Linked DNA regions of Homo sapiens: region 2 is linked to region 1. Evidence: fine-mapped expression QTL. Tissue or cell type: B cells. Region 1 holds a variant in brackets; the other region holds the start of a gene. All regions are shown on one strand. Distances are from middle to middle. Region 1 overlaps TDO2 (tryptophan 2,3-dioxygenase). Region 2 holds the start of CTSO (cathepsin O).

Region 1 (8,346 bases):
TGCAATGTAACATAGTACTTCAAAGTATTATTCAACTTCAAGTTTCAGCAACTACCTACAAAAGATTCTAAGGCCTAGTAGTATTTAAACTAAGTTTCAGAATGTTCCCTTCTTGTAGAGAGATGGACAACCAAAGTCAGTGGGACAAACTCCAGCACAGAAGCCTGCGAGGAAGCCTATGGAATAGTTTCCTGTCCTGAGACGAAATTCAGATTAGGAGATATTTTAGGCCCCTGCAACTGGGGAAGGCTACTGTTTGTTTTTGTTTGCTTATTATTTATTTGTTTGTTTATTGTGAGATATTTCAGGTGGGATCAAAGAGGTCATAAGAATTTATTTTCTTTTGTGGGGTGTAACTACTAGCTTTAGATTACCCCTATACACAAGAATGGCCAACCTAAAATTATGTGTGTCTTGTACAGTTAGTTATATTAGCAGCCCTCTGAGATGGCGTATCTATCGGAAGGATTTCAAACACCAATTGCTTTACCTGAACAAATGGTGCTTACCCTTTGAACAGCAGAGTGACCACGTAGAAGGAAGGAAAAGGGCAAAATCGCTTCAGTTAAACTGAAATTAAATGAACAATAAGGCAACTATATAAGTAACTTCTAGTAGCATTGCCTGAGAGACAAATTATTGTTTGATAATTTTCATTGTGAATAGGAATCCAATAGATCATATTGCTTACTTTGTTCTTTTTATACTATAGAATAATATTTTGTTCTCTAGTATATCAAAATACCAAAATATTATCTCATATTTTCTCCCTCTTTCTCTTACTCTTTACCAAGTTTTCCTGGTGGCTTGGCTTCCCTGACTAAAGAATTAAGTCTCATTTTTACTTTCCATTTCTATTTTCTTACCACTTGGTTGGCTCCCTTTGTCTCTGTACCTTTACCAACATTAGGATCTCACCTCTTTCTTCCTCCCTTAATTCATAAGCACCACTCCTATCAAAGTCCCATCTCTTAACCCTGGGTATCAAACAAACTGTGAGTTTTCCAGAATCTGTTTCCCAGTTTTCCCCTCAGCTTTCCTGGTCTCCCATCCGAACTGCTTCTTTGTGCACCTCTTGTTCTTTCTCTTGGCTCCCAGTCTTGATTCCTGTGATCACTCTTGCATCACTAATTGCACAAGTGATTTCAGGTGCAATTCTGATTAGCCTGCGTCCACACAGTGATCGATGATCCTATGTGCCTAGAAAGGACACTGTGTGCTGCTCATGACCTGCAACAGGAAAAAAGCCATTTCTTGTTAGCAGTGTAAGAACCTTAGAGCAAAGGAGTTGACCTTCTGATTGAATATAAGCACAACCATATTAAATGAATCAATACAAGAAAATTATTTCTGATACTATGTATGTACATATTTCTTCTCTAAAATGTATCATTCTTTTCTAATGTATATGATCTAACAAAAATGAAACATGAAATGCAGTAGCAACCACTAAAAAAAAAAATTCAAGGACATCTAACTTTTTCTCTCACTTTTGCCCTTTGTTTATCCTTCCCTGTGATTAGATAAACAAAATAAAAAACAAAATGCTGTATTTCTCTTCTTACGCCAGTCAGAACCAATCCGAAAAGAATGTGTGTTGACTCAGGTTTGGAGTTATTTCAGGAAGACAGATATTGACCTTTTAATTGATAAATATTCTTATTATCCTGGAATGCCAGAAAAGAACTATGTCCTGCTTGTCTAGTTTGTATTCGCTGACTTTCTATGTGATATAGATGCATTTGTAATACTCTTTTTCAAGTGCTAAAGGATTTCTAAAATTTCAAACTGATTAATATGTTTCTGCTGTTCTGGATTTTGATGACATTTACAATAAAACAACCTACATTTGACTTTGGTTTAAAAAGAACCTCTTCTTAAGTGTATGGCTTACATTTTGTCAACACGGTATTAATGTGCTTTATATTTACAGTTTTCTCAGCTCTAAATTAATATATCCAGCTTTTGGTTTTCTCCATAGGCACTTTAACCTCAGTGTTTCCGAAACTCCATTCGTCATCCTCCCTAACTTCTCCCACCACCCCCAACAAAAATTTCCTTTACCTCTAAGAGCCTCTATTTTGGTTAACAGAATCAACATTATGGAATCACCCAATCAATAAAATTAAGACAAATCCTAAACATTTAAGCAGGTCATCTGCACCTTGGTAACCCATCAATGAATTACCTACCTCCTGTGGCTACTGTCATTTCTTAGTTGCATGTTCTTTAGTGTCATTTATCTCCATTATTCAGTAGCCTACTCATTATTCTCTATGTCCCTTAGTCCAGACCCAAAGTCTGGTGATTCAGATTGATGTTCTTATAGTCCATCTACTGTATTTCCCCTGCATTTACATTTCTCAAAGACGTTATCAGTTTCTCTGTTCACAACCGTTCAAGGGCTCCCAATGCCTTATGATACCATGTGAGCTCTTTTAAGTGAGTTTTCACGAAGAAGCCCCTCTCTACCTTTTCAACCGTGATTGCTGCTGTGCTGCATAGTTTGATCACTCTTATGCTGTGATCCAGCCATAACAAACTACTTGAAGTCAAAGCAACAAAATCCTCACCTAATAATTAGAAGTCATAATGAAAGTCATCAACGTGTTTCTGGATGTGGTTTCACAAAGATCTCAAAGTGAATACTAAATTAGCCCACCTTACAGTGATTTTCTAGCCCATTTAAAAGTTATAAAGTGGGTCATCAGCACTAGAAGCAAGTGTGACTGGGGAGGGTGGGGACTTGCAGTCTAAATTATTTTGATATTTACATGAAGAATGACTGATATATCCTTTGATAAAACTCTTGCAACTTCTAGCTTAGTCACACCAAGAAATATAGGTGTAAAGAACTAAATATAACCATATAGTCTATGATATGGTTTAGCTATGATATGGTTTAGCTGTCTCTTAACCCAAATCTCACCTTGAATTGTAATAATCCCCACATGTCAAGGGCAGGGCCAGGTGGAGATAATTGAATCATGAGGGTGGTTTCTCCCATACTGTTCTCATGGTAGTGAATAAGTCTCACAAGATCTGATGGTTTTATAAATGGGAGTTCCCCTGCACAAGCACTCTTGCCTGCCACCATGTAAGACATGACTTTGCTTCTCCTTTGCTTTCCACCATGATTGTGAAGCCTCCACAACCATGTGGAACTGTGAGTCCATTAAACCTCTTTCCTTTATGACTTACCCAGTCTCAGGTATGTCTTTATTAGCAGCATAACAGCAGACTAATGCAACAGGCTAAGAAGGGAGTTACAGTATTGGCCAGGGTGATTGACCTGGACTATGAAGACGAAATCAGTCTACTACTCCACAATGGAGGTAAGGAAGAGTAGGCATGGAACACAGGAGAACCCTTAGGGTGTCTCTTAGTATTGCCATGCCCTGTGATTAATGTCAATGGGAAACTACAACGGCACAATCCTGGCAGGACTACAAATGGCCCAGATACTTCAGGAATGAAGGTTTGGGTCACTCCAGCAGGTACAAAGCCACAACCTGCTGAGGTGCTTGCTGAAGGCAAAGAGAATAAGGAATGGGGGTAGTGGAATAAGGTAGTCATCAATAGCAGCTTCAGCCATGTGACCAGTTGCAGAAATGAGGACTGTAATTGTCATGAGTATTTCCTCTTTATTTTGTTGAGAACATGTTTGCACATATATATACTTGTACTAAGAAAATATATTCATTTTATTTCCTTTATTTTTCCTTTATCATGTGATGTAAGATTTGTTGACTTCATATCAGCATTTAAGTGTTGTTAACTTTAGGTAATAGCATTTGGATTGGGGATTGGTGCACTTCCAGTTGTACAAAGGATAGCTGTATTGTGTTAGATGTAATTATGACCTTATTATTGGCTTCAGTTGAAGATTATGTGTGATTTCAGGAGATGTGGATGGGTTCAAGTTGACAAAGTTGTGATGGTTAATATTGAGTGCCAACTTGATTGGATTGAAGGATGCAAAGTATTGTTCCTGGATGTGTTTGTGAGGGTGTTTCCAAAGGAGATTAACATTTGAGTCAGTGGACTGGGAGAGGCAGACCCACCCTCAGCCTGGGTGGGCCCTGTCTAATCAGCTGCCAGTGTGAAAGGAGGCATGGAGAGAACAGACCTGCTGAGTCTTCTGGCCTCCATCTTTCTCCCATGCTGGAGGCTTCCTGCCCTGGAATAACAGACTCCAAGTTCTTCAACTTTTGGACTCTTGGACTTATATCAGTGATTTGCCATGGGCTCTGGGGCCTTCGGCCACAGACTGAAGGCTACAATATTGGCTTCCCTCCTTTTGAGGTGTTGGGACTTGGACTGGCTTCCTGGCTTGCAGACCTATTGTGGGACTTCACCTTGTAATTTTGTAAGTCAATACTCTTTAATAAACTCCCCTTCATATATACATCGATCCTGTTAGTTTTGTCCCTTTGGAGAATCCTGACTAATACAGTCTATTAAAATAATGATAAACGTTGACAAATAACATTTACACCAATATTCTAAGGCACTTTGGTGACAGAATATCTATTAACACATGTTTCTCCTGGGAAATAGCAAAGCTTATAAAATAAGTACTTTTATCCCCAGATGGATAGGAAACTAGGCTTCAACTGGTGATAGTACCAGATAGTTAATAAATGGCAGAGCCAGAATTTGCCCTCGAGCTTGTTGATTTCAAAGCTAGTGCCTTTTAGCCACCAT[G/A]CCATTTGCCTCTGTATTATATCAGCCTAGCCACCATCAGATACTGTGTATACACACATACATGAGCACACAACAGTCATGGAGACAAAAACAATTATATGTAATTCTGAGACAAACTAGATGATATAATCCTTATAAGACCTTATAAGAAAAAACTTGCAAATGAAACCAAAGAATAGTTCAATTCCATCAAGAACTTACTGCTTGCTAGTGATAATCACTCTAGGTCAAGGTTGACATACATTTTAGATTTCTTAAATAATATTATGTACTTCCTCCCATAACAAAAATTTAAGTTTTCCCAATAACCTGGCCAAGCTAGAAAAAGAAGACTAAAACTCATGTCTGATCTAAACTCTTAGCTTAGTTAATGTCTTATTAGAAATGAACTGGGTCACTGTCCAGTCTGTGTACTTTCTTCTGGAAAGCACATCTTCTTTGAGGGGACTGTTCCTTGCTTTTACCTCAGTTCTGCATGCATTAGAGTTCACTCCACCTCCCAGACCACAGGCATGGGAGCTGGGGGAAAGAGAAGCTTTGCCCTGTGTGAGTCTGATGGTGCTGGAAACTGGGACCCAGCCTGAGACAGAAGCTGTTCTACTGCAGGAAAGAATAAAGCCAACACCTACAGAGAAGAGATGAGACAAAAAAGATCTCAGAAGAGTGTTCCAGGAATATAGCACTCCAGGAACTGGACCCAGTCCTTGTGGCATCAGAGTTTTCAGGCTCCTCTTTCAAGGCTTTTTGGACAGTGTTCATTTGAATTCTGCAAGCTAGTAATTCTTCAGTATATCCCCTCTAGACAAACTTCAGATAGATTTCTGTCTTTGGTCATTAAGATTCCTAACAAATACAATCAATATTTCAAAAACAATACAGGGAGAAAGATTAATACTTTATTATTTTAAAAATTTTGTTTGAAAGCCTTTGTACAGAATAATATAATGTACTGCATAAAATATTTGAAATAGATGAAGTTTACAAGTTTATAAAGATGAAACAATGAGATAGTGATTACATTAAGTGGTTACATTAAGTCTCAGGGGAAACTGAATTTTTAATAGGAAAACACCCTATGTACAATGTTACTATTTAAATGTATTCTTTCTCATCTTAATGCTTAGTCTTGTCACAAACAAGAGGTAATCAAATTGTTTCTAGAATTAAATCAGAGCATCGTGGTGCTGAACAATATATGCATACATATATTCAAACTGTATTTATGAAAATCCATAGAAAATAAAAAATAGGCTGTGAAACCAGTATTCTTCATAGATTTTGCAGACGATTTTAATCTGATTCATCACTGCTGAAGTAGGAGCTATCACAGTATTCTGCTGTATATAGAAATTTGTGAATGGTTGGGTTCATCTTCGGTATCCAGTGTCGGGGAATCAGGTATGTTGAAAGATTAAATAAATCTACAAATACCTTGTACCTATCACTGGAAAAACATACATGAAGATGTGTTACATTGGTTGACATGAAATATTTAAATTTTTCAATTAGAAAATTTATTTCTCAGATATTTTCCATAGTTAGTATTCAATATTATAATATATATTGCATGTTGTATATATCATATATTAAATTAGGTATTATGTAGTATTAGTATTGATTGTCTGCTTTTTATTCCATTTTCAAAGTTTATGCCCATAAAACAGTATTATGTGTTTTAGAACAGGGTGTTTCCTATTAAAACCGAGAGTCTTATTGCTGACACCTTCATAAAGATAAAGATGTGTTCTCATTTCCTACTTCTGAAGGATGCTATGCAAGGTAATACATTTAAAGCAAACAGTCTTAGATGCTCATTTGGAAATATTTCCAACTGAAAAGATGCCAAATAACTGCCCTGAAGGGTTTAATAAATTGAAATGCCATCTTAGACTCATAATAAATGTCCATGAAGTAGTTTTAACACTAAAATTGCTTTTGTGTGGTTAGTCAACAATTTTAACTGTTGCAGTTTTATGGAGGAAGAACATTTGCCTTTGAAGTTAAATAAATCTGGGTTCAAATTCTGGTTCTATCACCTACAATTCAAGGACCTTTGACAAGTTGTTTAAACTTCAATGCCCCAGTTTCTAACTCTATAAAATGAAAACTTTAGTCCTTCCTTTTGGTCAGGTCTTTTTAAAACTGAGATAACAACACACTAGAGATGCCATTTGTGTTCATTATTCCCACCACCCACTGATGTGTGTGCTCATTTGGTATAGGCAGTTATCAACTGTTTTGTGCTTACAGAATTCATTTCCAGGGACAGTGAAAATGTCTAAAAATGATGAAAATTTAAACCTGTGTATTTCAGAAACCAACCAATCTGGTAATAACAGTAGGGACGAAAGCAATGTGCTGTAAAGATTTGAGGTGGGGCTAAATGCAAATGTCTAATTTATTCTTGAATTGATTCTTCTTTTTCAAGGGACCACAGAAGTTTTTCAGTTTCCCGATGTATCCATTTGTCCATTTATCTATGATATTGTGAATATCAAAATAAGAATGTACATCCCTTAGAAACCTCTCTAGCATATTTTAAGTCCTCAATAAATGTTGATCTCTTTCCTTGTAAACACTTTAAAAGGGGCACTCTCTGGAGTAGATGGAAATAGTTTTATAATATAAAATAGCCATATCAGAAAACAAGACGCTACTTTAACTGTGTCATTTATCTAGCCAGGAAGACATTAGTAGAATTAATGATAAATGTTTTAGTCTGGTCAAAACTTGAGTCACAATGAGTTGAAGACTTTTCTGCCTGGATGTAAGCACTGTTAAACCCTTTGTGTCCTCACATATCATGCAGCCATTGATACCATATCCCTTTTCATACAGGATCAAAACAGTGAAAGTTCATAATTAAAGATTTTATAAAATTACCACCAAAAGTCTGAACTGGAATATTCTAACTACAAACGTGTTGTTAGTAGTTCAGACAGGAGCAAATAAAATGGCTTTTTTTAGATAGCAAATGTATAGGTGGAGAAACAAATTGTTGGTGACTGCCACCAGGAAGAAAGGAGAATTTCCCCACCTACCTCACAGTTGATCGCAGGTAGTGATAGCCTGAGGAACCACCGGTGCCAGCTTTGCTGCCCAGCATTCTGTGCACCATGCACACATGGTTATCTAGGCAAACATACAAATTTACTCCATGGATATTTTTCCACCATTAGTTCCACAATGTTCTAACAATGAGGGGTTGGTAATGATAATTGCTTCTGAGAAAATGTTGACAACTAACACTTGGCCATATGGAAGGCTCATACATGAGAGCCAGATGAGACTGTGAGGTTGCCTAGCGCTCCACTTGCTTCAGGCTACATGCATTTCACTCCATCCTTCGCTGCATTTAGCCCATGGATACAATAGAAGAGACCAGGATCATAATATGACTCATGAGTCCATGCCACCTTTGCCTTTATGGGGTCCTTCATTTAAAAAAATAAAAAAACTATTAAAATTAAAAATTTAAAACTGCATTGGCATAATGGCAAATAAATTACTCTTATGTAATAAAACTTTTATGACCTAAAGTTTAATTTTTCCTTTAGATTTTAAAATAAAACATTTTCATGAGCCCCCAAAAGTATTGTGGGCCTTAGGTACTGTGCCTAGTGTGTATATGAATAAGTT
Region 2 (8,346 bases), 33 kb before region 1:
TCCTTGAGGTCCATGCCAATCCTGGCTCTACATCTGATATTTCTTGGGGAGTATACAGCCCGGTTTCTTCTCTGGATGTTCTGATTAGCATCTGTGGCTGAATCAGCAGTTGACTAATGCCCAGCACTCAGCTCATTGAGGGCCAGCCACTTCTCCCTGCAGATCCACACTTTGCTTGGCTTGTGCAAGGCTAGACACACATTCTCTGTCAGGTACCTCACCCCGATAGCCTGTGAGGCATGTAATTCTACTCTCTTAACGATGCAGTCTTCCCTGTCCTCTGTGGAATTGTTTGTGTGTTTTTCTATCAATTATCTATACTGATAAGTTTCCTTTGGAAATTTCCAATAACTATTGGGTTAAGAGAGTGATCTATTAAATATTTAGTTCCCTGAGATGGTTCAGGACCGTCATCACCTCAAATGTACTTGATAGAAGAAAGAAGCCATTATTGTTTACTTTGTCATTTTGAATAGGCATTTTGTTACATTATTTGTTGCTTCAACTTTTTAAAATTTTAATTTTAATTTCAATGGTGTTTGGAGTACAGGTTACATGGATAAGTTCTAAGATTTTGGTGCACCTGTCACCTAAACAATGTACACTGTACCCAATGTGTAGTATTTTATCCCTCACCCCCCTCCCACCCTTCCCGCCGAGTCCCCAAAGTCCACTGTATCATTCTTCCGCTTTGCATCCTCATAGCTTAGCTCCCACTTATAAGTGAGAACATACAATATTTGGTTTTCCAATCCTGAGTTACCTCACTTAGAATAATGGCCTCCAGTCCATCCAAGTTGCTACAAAAGACATTATTTCGTTCCTTTTTATGGCTGACTAGTATTCCACAGTGTATATATACCACATTTTCTTTATCCACTCATTGGTTGATGGGCATTTAGGTTGGTTCCATATCTTTGCAATTGCAAATTGTGCTGCTATAAACATGTGTGTGCATGTGTGTTTTTCATATTATGACTTATTTTCCTTTGGGTAGGTACTCAGTAGTGAGACTGCTGGATCAAATGGTAGTTTACTTTCAGCTTTTTAAGAAATCTCCAGCTGGGCACAGTGGCTCACACCTGTAACCCCAGCACTTTGGGAGGCTGAGGCGGGTGGATCACGAGGTCAAGAGATTGAGACCATCCTGGCCAACATGATGAAACCTCATCTCTACTAAAAATACAAAAATTAGCTGGGCATGGTGGTGTGCACCTGTAGTCCCAGCTACTTGAGAGGCTGAGGCAGAAGAATCACTTGAACCCGGGAGGCAGAGGTTGCAGTGAGCCGAGATCATACCACTGCACTCCAGCCTGAGCAAGAGAGATACTCCATCTCAAAACAAAACAAAACAAACAAACAAACAAACAAAAAAAAGGTAAAAAAAAAAAAAACAAAGAAACAAAATAATTCCGTAGCAAAGTCACTGAAACATGAAGTAGCATGATTAAAAATGGAAGAAAACCCAGAAGGTGCATAACGGGATAAAAACAACAGTAAATATTGATTTGTGTATCATAAAGGTTAAGAGGTATTTGTGAAAATGGTTAGCTCTGGAGTATTTTCACACATAAAGAAATGACTGCATTTGTTACTGGGCTTATAACATTCAACATGAGGCTGTGGTAGCGGGCCTCCAAGATGGCACCTGATGACCCCACCTTATGTCAGCTCCACCTCCCACATCTTACCAGACTGGCTCTGTGTAACCAATGGCAGAAGAGATGATATGTTTCAAGATAAGGTTATAAAAAGACACTGCTGCTCCCACCTCAGTCATTCCCTGGTCCACTGTCTCAATTTCTCTATTCACTCATTCTGCAGGAACAAAGAGCTGGCAGGAAAAGCCCAGCCTTCTGATAAGGTTCTGAGGATTTTGTCCAAAGGCCTAAGAGGAGCTGAGGACTCTTGCTAACAGCCACATGAGCTTGAAATTGAATCCTTTAAACTTGGGAAACCTTCAGAAGATTGCAGCCATATGCAACAGCTTGTCTGCGTCCTCATGAGACACTCTGAGCTGGAACCACCCAGATAAGCTGCTCCCTCCTGGTCCACAGAAACTGTTTAAGATAAGAAAAATTCGTATTTTTAAGATGCTAAGTTTGAGGGTTATATTTTACATGGCAATAGATATCTAATACAGAGTTGAGGGAAGTTCCATGTGCTATTTTGCAAATTTGATGAAAAAAACACATCTCTACATATACATGTAATTTGTAGTGTTTATTCTAAGAATTAGCAGATACTTGCCACCTTCACTTTTCAAGCCACTTTTCAAAAACTTTGTTTTACTACTTAATAGATGATTCTGATCTCCCTTTTAACTGACCCAAAATTCTTCACAATCTGTGCGCTTCTTACTTATCTCATATTCTACTCTCCCCCATCCTTTTTTTTTTCCTTTACTCCATCCATGCTGACGTCTTTTATGTTTCTGGAACGTGCCAAGCAAACTTCCATCTCAAGGCCTTTGTGTTGACAGTTCTTTCTGTCTTAGCTTCTCTTTCCCTGGATATCTGAATATCCATGTGGCTCACTTTCTTCTCCTTCAAATCTTTGCTCAAAACTCTCCTCATCAGTGAGGACAGTATTGAACAGCTTATTTAAAATAGCAGTACCACCCCTCACACTGATGATGCTCCTTATCTGGATTTATTGTCCTTTAACACATGTACAAGTTGAGCATCTCTAATCCAAACACCCAAAATACTCCAAAATCTAAAACTTATTGAGTACTGACATCATGCCACACCTAGAAAATTTCACACCTGACTTCATGTGGTGGGTCATAGTCAAAATGCATTCAAAGCCTTGTTTTATGCATAAAATTACCTAAAATAGTCAGTAAGATTACCTTCAGTCAGTAGCATAAGTGAAACACAAATGAATTTTGTGTTTAGACTTGGGTCTCATCCCCAAGAGATCTCATTATGTATATGCAAATATTCCAAAATCTGGGGGGAAAAAATCTGAAATCTGAAACACTTCCAGACCCAGGCATTGTGGATAAGGGATCCTCAACCTGTAGTAATTTTATTGCGTCTCTCCCCCTCACTGAAATACCAGCTTCAACAGGGTGGGGCTTTTCATCTCTTCAGTCACTTATGCACTTCCATCCATGATGTGTCCTGATGACCTAGAACAATGCCTGACACTTAGGAAGTACTCAATAAAATATTTGTTGATGTAAATCAATTGAAATATCAGTCCCATAGGGATGGGGATTTTCATCCCTTTAGTCACTTATCCACTTACTTGATATATCCTCATTACCTAGAAGAATGCCTGACACTTAGCAGGTACTCAATAAATACTTGATGTGAGCTCCTGAAATGAGTTTAGTTCAAGGGGCTTTTTTACAATACCAATTATCCTAAAGTAAAGATGACTGCCTATATTTAAATTTCCTGACTCCGTAGGTTGTCAATAAACAGGGACTATGATCTGAAAGCAAAGTTCAGTTTAAAAAGAAAAGTATGTGCTTGTATGAGTCACAAAAAAGGGCTAAGTACAAAAGAACTGCTGAGGTAAACATGAACATCGTTCTGTGAACTTATGATTTAAATAAAATCTTTATCACCACACTTGCCAAGAGCAATATATCTTATCATGAACGTACATAAAAAACTCTTGTGTCTTTCCTCTTAATACTCGGAACATTATTTTTATTTTTATTACGAAGTTTGCATTGGAGAATATTGTAACTCACTGCACCTAGGTAAAAACTAAAGACATAAATCTGATGTTAGTTCTAAAAATCTACAAGGGTAATGATATGAATTTCACAGACATGGAAGCCTTGTTCAGAATAGATGATAATAGAAAGGCTCGGTAGAGCCAGGTTCATGAGTGTGTGACCTGTGCAGAAGTGGGTGCTTAGAAGGCCCATGGCTTGGGTTAATGCTCTGCTGTTGCCGTCTTGAAATTCTTCACAATTTATGAACAAGGGAACTTCATTTTCAGTTTACACGGAACCCTGCAAATTATGTACTTGGCTCTATCTTCCTTTGCAAACGGAGAAACAGGCTTCAAGAGTTTTGAAACTGCCATAATAGATCCAAAAACTGTGTATGCTTTTCACATCTGTACAATTTTGTTACGTATTTATAAACATCTGCTGAATGGATGACTCTATGTATTGGCCCACATCACTTCAGAACTAGGTCTTGAACTTAGGGATTGTGGCAAGAAGGAAAAAGGCAGCTTCCGGTGGCTCACAGGGCAGGCCAGGTGGCTCACACCTGTGAGCATTTTGGGAGGCCAAGGCGGGTGGATCACTAGAGTCCAGGAGTTCGAGACCGGCCTGGGCAATATGGCAAGATCCTATCTCTACTAAAAATACAAAAATAGCCTGGGGTGGTGGCACGCGCCTGTAGTCCCAGGTACTCCGGAGGCTGAGGCAGGAGGCACTTGAACCTGAAGGTCGAGGCTGCAGTGAGACCTGATCTCAACACACACAAAAGAATGACTCTCAGGCTTCTTTTTTTCTAATGGATGGAAGTGAAACCTCGAAAGCACATGGTCAAGTGCCTGACTCTTCCAAAACAAAAACAAAAACAAAAAAACTAGCCTCAGCAAGGAGGTCCGTAGCCTCCAGCTGACCGGATTTTCAGTCACAGAACACCGGGGACCTAAAAAAGGGTCAATCTCAGCATCGTGCACTCAACCCAGCTCCTTCCGCCCCTCGAGCCCAGGCTGGGAGGAGCCGAGGAACCGAAAGAGAAAACAGGCCGCGCGGGCGGCAGAGGAGCCGGGCGCCGCAATGGACGTGCGGGCGCTGCCGTGGCTGCCGTGGCTGCTGTGGCTGCTGTGCCGGGGCGGCGGCGATGCGGACTCCCGCGCCCCCTTCACCCCGACCTGGCCGCGGAGCCGCGAGCGTGAAGCCGCCGCCTTCCGGGTACCGAGCGCGCGCCTCCCCGGGATCTGTCCCTGCTCCCTCACTTCCTGTCCCGGGTCTGGGCTGCGGAAGAGGGCCCCCGAGAGCTGACCCTGCTCGTGGGCACCCGTGGCTCTGCGATGCGTCTGGGGCCCTGAGCTGCGGGTGCAAAAGCCAGCTTCTCTCTCCCCTCTCCTTGTGCCATGGTGTCACTCCCCCATGCCTTTGCTAACCAAAAGACTTGATTTTCCAGAAGAGATTTGTCGCTATGGATTTTTGGGACGCACCCAAATAAATCCATAGATACGTCCAAAGTGTCCTTGGTGGGAAGAAGCACCCCCTTTTAGCAATCCCCTCTATCGTTGCCACTGGCTTCCAAAGCTCTTCTATTTCTCTTTTATGAGAACCAGAAACAGGGAGCAGCCTGTTGGTGGAAGAAACCTGTCGTGTTTTTTTTTCCCGAGGAGGGCGCTAGTGATCAGAAGTTAGAAACAAAGAGCCTGTCTTTAGCCAGATTAAAGAATCCTGATGGTTTATGATTCTCCTTAAACTAACGCACCACTTTAAAAGTTCTTCCTGCCTTGGCGGAGACTGAGTTGAAGAAAAGAGAAGCATTTAATTTCCTTTTCATATTATTATACGAAATATAATATAATTTATATTTTATAATATTTATAATAAATACTTAGATTTGAGTCTAGCATGAAAACTCTGGAAGGGACCAGTTAGCTGAGCACAAATAATGATTTTCCTGAAACCAAGGAAACTGCAAGGGATGCCGATTTAGTGTTCGCCTCACTATGTTCTAGATAGCTGATACTATTTAACACATTTTTAAATTCATGAAAGATGCCATTATCATGATTTAATTTATTGGAAAAGAAAATTCTTTCATTCTGAATCAAACATAAGTCTGAGTTGAGTAATATTGCTCAAGGAAGTGTATCTTTTTTCCTGGTGTTTGTTGGAATTTCTCACAGGATTTCATAGCTGTGCTCTTTTCCCCCGACTCTCCTGGAAAGCTCCAATGTTTAGGAAGGCCAGCCTTCCCTGATTCTGTCCACTCTTACGTTTTGTCCAAACCGAGATGTGTACTGTTATCTCCACTTTATTATTCTTGAGTTCAGTTCTAGCTTTCAAAACCAGAAGTCCTCTTACTCTTTCAAGAACAAAATTCTGGCCTGTATTCTACCCCTATCCTCAACTTACGTTCGTTTTCCTGGTAAACGAAACCCCTTAGGGGAAAAGTCAGTTTCACCTTTATTGGTAACGTATTCATTGGCTAAATAAATAAACACACTGTCAGGCTCCTAAAAATAATATTTCAGGACAAAGCTCAAAGGGCTAGACTTATAAATATATTTTTAACATTTATTTAGATTTTAGATAATTTATAAATATATATGTGTATAATTTATGTAGTGACTCATACTGGTCCTGTAAAGAGGCCATACCCTGATGAATGTCTAGAAAATGTAACTTTTCTCAGGAGAAATACAAAGAAACAGGTTGAAAGATGGAAAGTTGGAAGTGGAGGAGGATCGAATTATGAAGACTCTTAGTACATTTTAAAAACCTCGGGTTAAGAAATACTGAAAAAATTTTCAAAGCAATTGCTGCCTGTAAGAATTTGCTTCATGAGATGGATACCCAAAAAAGAGAACATTGAGGCTTCAACGCACAGTTGCTGGAAACTGAACACCTCTCGGTGCTTAGTTGGACTTTATCCAAGAATGCTTTAAAACCGATTTTCTACCTTAGTGGTCCCCAATCTTTTGGCACTAGGGACCGGATTCATGGAAGACATTTTTTCCATGGACGGGAGGAGGGAAGTGGGGGAGATGGATGGATTTGGGATGAAAGTCTTTCATCTAAGATCATCAGGAATTAGTTAGATTAGTTAGCTGGAGATTGCTGTTCGGACTTGGGATAGAGAGCTGGACAGTGGGAAAGGTGGAAAGGGCCTTGCCTCCTTGGTAACCGTGAAACTTCTTGTTGAAATCAAGTTAATTCATTGGTGAATTGATGATTCAGGGGTTTGCAGCTGAAGATCTGGTTCAAGAAAGTCCTTGATTAATTAGTAATGTCTTTCATGGTCATGGGTTTAGAGAATGGTGAAGGTTTTAAAATTTGTTTTAATCTTAGCCTTAGATAGTTTTGTAAGTTTCCCAGGAATGCACGTTAAATGAAAGTTAGGTTAGCCCATGACTTTCCCACAAAATATTATAGTATTGTTCAGTGAAAACTAGACTCCACTATGGTTTATTATGGGATGCCTCACAAGACACCTGACTTTGGATGGCACCCCTTATCTCTGCACTTTCACTCCTTTAGAAACTTCCAGTGCTCAGGAAGCTCTTAACTATTGGATTTAGCCTACTCTCCTTTGTGCCAAAACCTAGCTATGCCCTCATATTTACTGATGCTCATTATTTTACCACAGAACATTTGGTATTCTTATCCTTTTGGGAGGCACAGACCCAATATTGGATCCAATAAAATTTGCTTGATACACTCACTTTAGAATAATATCTATGCCAAAGTACATGTGATTTTACATAAAATTTCCAAAGCTTTACCTTAAGACCAGTTGCCGTAATGACACAGGTTATATTATTATAAGATTATTTATATATTTAGGAATATTTATTTATGTGTAAATAGATGGCCATAGCATCTTTATAACAAGTGATCCTAACTAATGAGCCACTTATATGTGCTTGCCGTAATCAGCCCCTTGAAATCTGGAATTAGGTCCTCCAAATAGGCTTTATCCAAGAAAGCTTTAAAACCTATTTTCTACCTCAGTGGTCCCCAAACTTTTTGGCACCAGGGATTGGTTTCATGGAAGACAATTTTTCCACGGACTGGGGTGTGGGGGTGGGGTGAGGAGGATGCGGATGATTTCAGAATGAAGCTGTTCCACCCCAGATCATCAAGCATTAGATTCACATAAGGACTGTGCAAACTAGATCCCTTACATGCACCGTTCCCAGTAGGGTTTGTGCTCCTATGATAATCTAATGCTGCTGCCGATCTGACAGAAGGTGGAGATCAGGTGGTGATGCATGCTCGCAGGCCCCTCACCACCTGCTGTGCAGCCTGGTCGTTAACAGGCCACAGAACAGTACTGGTCCATGGCCCAGGGTTTTGAGACTCCTGTTCTACCTTATATAAAGATGAAAACACGAATTTGATGTTAGATAAGGTTGTTCAGCAGACTTTTTCTGATGAATCTCACTTAAAGCATACATTGACTAAATGGAAATATATCATAAACTTAAAATCATAGGTTATAATTTATTCATCTTCCCATACATTTATCCAATACTTTATTTAATTTCCACTGTGTCTAAAGAACTGGTCTGGGTTTTCTGAGGGATACAGTGGAGAATAAGACGCGTGCTGTCCTGTAAGAAATGTACACAAAAAATGAATATCGTTATGTTTAAGCATTGTATCCTGTAAAT

Evidence for each region. PIP is the estimated chance that this variant, and not a neighbour inherited with it, causes the effect.
Region 2: it holds the start of CTSO, and the variant in region 1 is the best candidate, but not a certain one, in a credible set for the expression of CTSO in B cells (Fairfax 2012, PIP 0.52).

The regions. Positions count from the first base shown.
Region 1 is chr4:155,917,642-155,925,987 of GRCh38, reverse strand. It overlaps TDO2 (tryptophan 2,3-dioxygenase), which reads right to left. Exons shown (of 12, transcript NM_005651.4): 11 at 7,749-7,839; 12 at 5,582-6,151. The coding sequence ends at 5,998. It overlaps CTSO (cathepsin O), which reads left to right. Exons shown (of 8, transcript NM_001334.3): 8 at 1-1,870. Among named protein-coding and RNA genes, the nearest start is that of TDO2, 18 kb to the right of the region's middle. The variant G/A (reference allele first, on the strand shown) is at 4,708.
Region 2 is chr4:155,950,264-155,958,609 of GRCh38, reverse strand. CTSO (cathepsin O) reads left to right here and starts at 4,744. Exons shown (of 8, transcript NM_001334.3): 1 at 4,744-4,897. The coding sequence starts at 4,763. RefSeq lists an enhancer at 3,339-3,633.